2 linked regions of the Homo sapiens genome follow. The protein of the gene in region 1 purifies or fractionates together with the protein of each later gene. This does not show direct contact. Each region holds a gene or a part of one and is shown in the gene's direction. Other genes may lie near its edges.

Region 1 (3,817 bases):
CGGTTACCACCCTGGATGGCCACGGCGGCCAGTGTGTGACCTGGCTGCAGACGCTGCCCCAGGGGCGCCAGCTCCTCAGGTGGGTCTCCAAGGTGCAGGAGCCAGGTATGGCCTTCGGGGGAGTCAGGAACTCTCTGATGGAGGCTCTGGTGTCCCCCACTGAGGGGCAGAATGGGGTGGGGGAACCAGAAGGGGCCAGCAAAGGGTCCGCAGCAAGGGCAGGGTGTGCAGGTCCAGCCCCTTGTCACAGGGAGGCAGGCAGGTCTGCCTCTGCATCTCCACCATCTCCACTGGACCCTTCATGCTCCAAGCTGGAGCCAGGAGGTGCCAGGTGAGGAGGCCAGAGCTCCAGGGCTGGTGACATCTGAGGTGAGCCCAGGCGCAAGTTGGTGGGAGGGCCTTCACAAGGGCACTGGGTCGTGGCTTGGGAAACTGGGCAGGGGTGAGGGCATTTGCTGAGAGGAGGGGAATGGGATGAAGTACAGGCTCAGGGATGCAGGCAGTGGTCCCAAGGAGGGCCTCCCTGCCCACTGCCCATCCTGCCTGGGCCGTGTGCCATGAGCATGGCAGGTCACACACGGTGCCGGTGGAGGCCCTAGGAGCTGGGTGTTCCGGCAGCTGAGCCCTGGCCGTGTGTGTCCCTTCACTAGGTTATGACAATGCACCTGACTCTTCCCAAGAGGACCCAGCCCCTGATGTTGTGCCACATACGGCTATGTGGCTGGCAAGATGGTGGCTGAGTGGCCAGGGGCGGGGCGCAGGGCTTGGGTGTATAGTGCTGTCCCACAGCAGTGTGCTTCTGCGTTTCTGAAGTGGGCGTGGTAGTGAGGGCCATCTCCCCACCTGGTCCCCCCTGCAGTGTCTCCTGTGGTTTCTACCCCTGCAGTCTCCTCCCTCAGGGCCCCGAGCTCACGTGTGTGTTCTGTACCCTACGCATCACTTGGGGATTACTTGTCCAGACTGTACCCCAGCAGGAAGGGTCCACAGAGGTGGCCTGTCCCCATTGGTATTCAGACCCCACTGTTCTAGCCTGTGCTTAGCACAAGGGCAGGTTTCTGGGTGCCCCCATGGTTCATGAGGCCTTAGCCCATCCCGAGACAGTGTGACCCTACCCTCCGTGACTGCTGTGCTGTCTGGCCAGGTGCCTGCTGGGAAGAGCCTAGTGAACGTATGGCGATGGCTGTGTCCCCATTGCAGTGTCAGCCTGTGCCTTCAGCAGAGCTCGCCCTGGCCAGGGGTCCGCATTGAGCCCAGGCCCCTCCTCAGATGAGCTTCTGCCTCTATCCCATGGGCCCAGGTCCCAGTCACCACAGCCCCTCTACAACTTGGCCTCCTGTGGCTGTCGCACCATCCTCCTGCATGGGTGGCAGAGCCTCATCCTGAGGTTACCCAGCTCACAGGGCCCTGCTTCACACGCTGGTGCAGCTGCTGGGTAAGCAGGAGGTGGCGGAGGAATAAGAGGGCCTGGCAGTCCTGGTGGGGGAGACCCCACGTGCTGCGGCCCTGGAGGGCCTGCCTCTGAGTGTGGTGAAGGACAGTGGGGCTGGGTGCTGGGCAGCTGGCAGCAGAGCAGGGAGGGGCAGCCCCCGAGGGTTAGCCCAGGGCTGGGTTCTGACATCGCCCCCGTGGTCTTGTGGAGGTGATGGGGCTGAGACACCAGGCCGGAGGTAGGCCAGGAAGCAGCAGACAGGGGCAGGTGCGTGAGGGGCTTCTCTGTTTCCCATGGGGAGTGGGAGGGACAGGGCATGGTGGGACAGGGAAGGCCTGCAGGGGGCTGACAACAAGTCCTCCTTTGGGCTGCCTGGATGCTGGAGCAGGCTATTGTCCTTGATCAGAGTGACATCTGCCCCTGTGTGGGGATCGCTGCCACCAGCCCAGGAATCCTGAGCACGGGCCTGCTGCTGTCCTGGGATTTGCCTTGCGTCATATTCAGGGAACTCCGTGCCATCACCATCACAGCCCAGAACTCCAGAAGGACAGGCCTGTTCTCCTGCTCTGGACTCGGTGCCTGGTTCATGGCACTGTGGAGTATAGTCCCTGGAGAATGAGGCCTGTCTGGCCCCCACCAGTCTGCAAAACATGTCTGTGCTAGACTCACGCGGTGCCTACCACCTGGGAGATGGCTGCAGGTGACGAAGGCACCAGGGTTGTCCTGAAGAGCAGAGGCCCTGAGCCTGTGTGCTTGCAGAGCCCCGTGTGGTCATGCCTGCATCCTGGCCAAGCCGACCCAGATCCCTCACCACTGGTGCAGGGGGCCTCAGAGTGGGTTTGGTCTTTGATTGTCAGAGTAGACTTCATTTCTAGAACCCCACCAGGCCATGTGCATCAGGAGCTGCTGTTTGTAAGTGTCCTCCTGAGTTTTCAGCCACAATGTAGCCCTTGGTGGTCCCTTGCGTAGGTGCCTTGTGGTATCAGGCTGTCCTGCAGACAGGAGCTGTGCCAGGCCTGGTGGGCGGTCTGGGAGCTGACGTTCGAGGGCACCTCCCCTTCCTGCTGGGATGGTGCTGTAGTGGCTGCTTCCCAGGCAGAGCCAGCCACGGGTCAGGGGGTCTGTGGACAGAAACTGCAGGTGTGGAGTGCCAGGTGCGTCTGCACTGTACTAGAGCCTGTGGGCCGCCACCCGGCCTGTGCTCAGCTGTGTTTGGAAGCCAAGTCTCTCCAAGTGGCCCTTGAAGGAAGTGATGGCTTTCATGTTGATGGGAGGTGGGAGGACGCCCTCAGCCTCCCGCATGCCAAGGACACACCTGTGCCTTCGACAGCCACCTCGGCAGGGTGTTTTTTAATCTTTTTTCTTGTGAAGTATAATGTACTCACAGAAGAGTGCAAGACAAGTGTTCAGAGCATTGTATTACGGCTGAGTGAGCACCTGAGCAACCACCTTCCAGTCAAGAAGTAGAGCGCAGGGCCCCCGAGCCTCTGAATCCCTGAGCTGCTGCCACCTGCTCTCCCTGGAGATAGCCCCTCATGCCCCAGGAGGTAGCCCCTCACGCCTCATTTTTGCTATATTTATGAATGTATGTCTCTGAAAAGCATAGACTATTTTGTCTGCTTTTTTCTTTGGAAGCGTGGAGACATAAGGAGCAGCATCTGTGTGTGACTTCTCTCACTCAACTTTATCTCCGTGAGCTCCGTGTGTTGCATGTAGCTGCAGTCAGCTGTCGCTGTTTTCTTTTTCTTACGTTTTTTTTTCTTTTTTTGAGACAAAGTCTTGCTCTGTTGCCAGGCTGGAGTGCAGTGGCATGATCTTGGCTCACTGCAACCTCCGACTCCCTGGTTCAAGTGATTCTCCTGCCTCAGCCTCCCGAGTAGCTGGGATAAGAGGCATGTGCCGTTACGTCCAGCCAATTTTTGTATTTTTACTAGAGATGGGGTTTCACCATGTTGGCCAGGATGATCTCCTGACTTCATAATCTGCCCACCTTGGCGTCCCAAAGTGCTGGGATTACAGGCATGAGCCACTGTGCCTGGCCCCTAATGGTGTCTTTAATGAACAAAGTTACTCATTTTAATGGAGTTGATTCAAGTCTGCCAGGCTTTCCCCTTATGGAGAGTGCCTTTGTGTCTTGCCGGGAGTTCCTGCACCGAGGTCCGAGAGACCTCTCTCCATGTCTCCCAGGAACTTTACTGTTGTCCCTTGTAGATCCATGGTTCAGCTGGAATTCACTACGGTGTGCAGTGAAGGCCCTGGGTTTCCATGTGGGTACCCAGCGGTCCCGCCTTCCCCCACCTCAGTGCCCCTTGGATGGGGTGGGAAGGGGGTGCCAGGCAGTCAAAGAAGCAGGGTTGGGGGGGTGGTGTGGCAGCGGCAGCCTGGGAG
Region 2 (3,817 bases), on another chromosome or scaffold:
CAGAAAAGGTAATTCGTTCCTGTTACCAAGTGATCCAGCATAACTAGGATGGTGGTTTTTTGTTATTGTTTTTGTTTTGTTTTGTTTTGTTTTTTGAGACACAGTCTTACTCTATACTCTTGCCCAGGCTGGAGTATAGTGGCACAGTCATAGCTTACTGCAGCCTCAACCTCCCAGGCTCAAGCTATTCTCCCATCTCAGCCTCCCATGTATCTAGGACTACAGGCACGCACTACCACACCCAGCTAATTTTTTTGATTTTGTGGAGATGTGGTGCAAGAGTGGTCTCACTGTGTTACCCAGGCCAGTCTCCAGCTCTTGAGCTCAAGCAGTCCTCCCAAAGTGGTGGGATTATAGACAGGAGACACCATGACTGGCCTATAACTAGTTTTTATACTTAAGTGGGAAGATTGTTCTTTATGTTCTGATCTCCAAGAACTTTAAATAATTGTATGCTGCTGGCCAAGCATGGTGGCTCATCTCTGTAATCCTAGCACTTTGGGAGGCTGAGACGGGAGGATTGCTTGAGTCCAGAAGTTCAAGACCAGCCTGGGCAAAATGGTGAGACCCTCTCTCTAAAAAAATTTTTAAAAATTAGCCAGGCATGGTGGTGCATGTCTGTAGTCCCAGCTACTCAGGAGGCTGAAGTGGGATGATTGTTTGAGCCCTGGAGGTCAAGGCTGCAGTGAGCCATGATCGTGCCACTGTACTCCCATCTGGGCCATAGAGTGAAACCATGTCTCAAAAAAAAAATTGTATATATATGCAAATTGTAAATGTATGCAAAAATCTCTTAAGTTCTATTGAAGGTATGGAATGAGATAATCAAAGAGTTTCTAATAAGCTCTAAAATGCTTGATTCTATTATACTGTTCATTTCCAGGCCAATTTTTTAAATACAATTTTTCATGAACATAAAATTATGATGTATATATAAATATGTAGTAGAACACGATAGGGTGACTATAGTTAATAATATATTGTATATTTAAAAATACTAAGAGTGAAATTGGAATGTTCCTAACACAAAGAAATGATAAGTGTTTGAAGAGATGGATACCCTAATTACCACAATTTCATCATAACACATTGTATACCTATATCAAAATATCACACATACCCTGTAAATGTATACAACTATTATGTACCCATAATAAAAATTTTTAAAAATGAAAATATACATAGTAGAAAATAAACACGTGCTTTTCATTTTCTTTAAAACCCTTTAAACAGAAAGATGTATTTCAATTAAAAGACTTGGAGAAGATTGCTCCCAAAGAGAAAGGCATTAGTAAGTACCAAAGTTATACTGGAATGTTTTGGGAAATATACTGGGATGTTTTGGGAAATATCTTAATATTCATTAAGTCATCTTTTCTGCAACAGTCTTTCACTTTATGGAAAACCTAAATTTCTAGAGACAAAGAAATCATCACCATCCAAAGATAACCACTGTCATGTTGTCCTTTATTTTTCTGTATAATACATCCTGTATATTACATTTTGAATATATATCCCTGTCATTAAATATCCTTTTATAACATAAATGATTGTATAGTATCCCATTGCAATAAAAAAATACTTTTAAAAATCTAGTTGATAAGCTGGCTGGTAGCGCACACACACTTGTAGTCCCAGCCACTCTGGAGGCTGAAGCGGGAGGATCACTTCAGCCCAGCTAGGCAACATAGCAAAATCCTGTCTTTAAAATAAAAATCCAGTTATTAGACTGGTTTCCAATTCTTTTGCTGTCGAAAACAATGTGTTGACAGGCATCCTTCTACATATCTATTATTTTTTGTTTGGCTGTATTTATAAGGTGGAATTTCCCCAGGAAAGATATGTATAAATTGGGCTGGGCGTGGTGGCTCACGCCTATAATCCCAGCACTTTGGGAGGCCAAGGCAGTTGGATCATGAGGTCAGGAGATCAAGACCATCCTGCCTACTAAAACCCCGTCTCTACTAAAAATACAAAAAAATCTTAGCCGGGCGTGGTGGCAGGCGTCTATAGTCCCAGCTACTCAGGAGGCTGAGGCAGGAGAATGGCGTGAACCCAGGAGGCAGAGCTTGCAGTGAGCCGAGATCGCGCCACTGCACTCCAGCCTGGGTGACAGAGTGAAACTCAGTCTCAAAAAAAAAAAAAAAAAAAAAAAAGATATGTATAAATCTGAAGTTTTAGATACAGATTGCCACGTTTCTCCACCCATACTGAGAGTACCCATTCAAGTATCCTTGAATTCTTTATTGTATTTTTTAGTGTTTTTAATTTGGTAGTCAAGTCATGTCTAATTGCTTTATTTTCGATTTCTTCAGTTATTAATGGGGTTGAACATTTTTCTCATATATTGGCCATGCATATTTTATTTTATTTATTTATTTATTTGTTTATTTATTTATTTGAGACAGAGTCTACTCTGTCACCCAGGCTGGAGCCCAGTGGTCCAGGCTGGAGCCCAGTGGTGCAGTCCTGGCACACTGCAACCTCTGTCTCCCGGGTTCAAGCGATTCTCCTGCCTCAGCCTCATGAGTAGCTGGGATTACAAGCTCCTGCCACCATGCCCACCTAATTTTTGTATTTTTAGTAGAGATGGGGATTTGCCATGTTGGCCAGGCTGTTGTCAAACCGCTGACCTCAAGTGATCTACCTGCCTTGGCCTCCCAAAGTGCTGGGATTACAGGCATGAGCCACCATGCATATTTTATAGATGCACATTGATGTATTTTTTGTGTGTCTTTTGTTGTGTTGTTTCAAAATGAAAAAACCTCTTTTATTATGAGTATACATACAAGTGAAACCAGACAACCACTGAGAGTCCCTCACACTTTTATGTACACCACACAATTATTCTCTTTACAGTCATCAGTGAACAATTGGTTCTGCTACTTCTTAAAGATATGCAAATTTCTTAAGTTTAAATACACAGTTGACCCTGGAACAACACCTATGTTGTTCAAGATTGGGATACCAATCCCCCACACAATTGGAAATCTGCATGTAATTTTTGACTCCCCCAAAACTTAACTACTGATAGCCTGCTGTTGACAGGAAGCCATACCATGTATTTACTATTCATTAAGTGGCAGTGGATCATCATAAAGTTCTTCATCCTTGTCATCTTACATTGAGTAGGCTGAGGAGGAGGAGGAAGTGGTGTTGCTGTCTCAGGTGGCAGAAAATCCATGTATATAACTGGACCCATGCAGTTCAAACCTGTACTGTTCAAGGGTCAACTATACAATATTAATTACACCAGTGTCCTAATGTCCCCAGACAAATTGTAGGTAATGGAATCTCAACTGTATCTTGAAGGATCAAAAACAAAAAACAAAATTCAATCCAGTCTACAAGATGGAAAAATTTATTGTATTAACTAAATTCCTTTTCTTCTTACCTATTTTCCCTCCCAGTTATTGACAATTTTTTTCTGCAGTATAAGATGATGGCCAAATTACCCAACATCTTTTTTAAAAAAGAAACATTATTTAGAAAAGGAAAAGATACCATATAGCAACAGACTATGAGTGTTAACACCATTAAAATTATTTACTAAGCACTGATGCTAGCATCTTCTATTACTAGATAATCTATTGGGAGAGAAAAACTTGCATTTCTGTAGTTTTGTTTTGCTTTTTCAAAGGCTTCTCACAAGTAACATTTTATTGACATTACTGCTATGCACCAAAGTAAGTATGGAAATGATCATATCTAATAGATTTTTTAAATTAGGCATAAAGAACAATTTGCCCTAGAGTCATCCAGTGTTACTGCTAAGAGTTAGGATTAGAACTCAGGTCCTGTTCTTAATCCTGTATAT

Evidence for each region.
Region 2: the proteins of GNB1L (region 1) and MND1 purify together in Homo sapiens (co-immunoprecipitation; one large-scale study listed by IntAct). This does not show direct contact.

What each region holds. Positions count from the first base shown.
Region 1 is NC_000022.11:19,816,860-19,820,676, reverse strand, and holds part of GNB1L (guanine nucleotide-binding protein subunit beta-like protein 1), read left to right. Parts: coding exon 1-79; intron 80-3,817. UniProt on the Homo sapiens protein: Acts as a critical regulator of DNA damage response (DDR) signaling via specifically regulating phosphatidylinositol 3-kinase-related protein kinase (PIKK) family proteins.
Region 2 is NC_000004.12:153,354,421-153,358,237, forward strand, and holds part of MND1 (meiotic nuclear division protein 1 homolog), read left to right. Parts: intron 1-1,233; coding exon 1,234-1,291; intron 1,292-3,817. UniProt on the Homo sapiens protein: Required for proper homologous chromosome pairing and efficient cross-over and intragenic recombination during meiosis.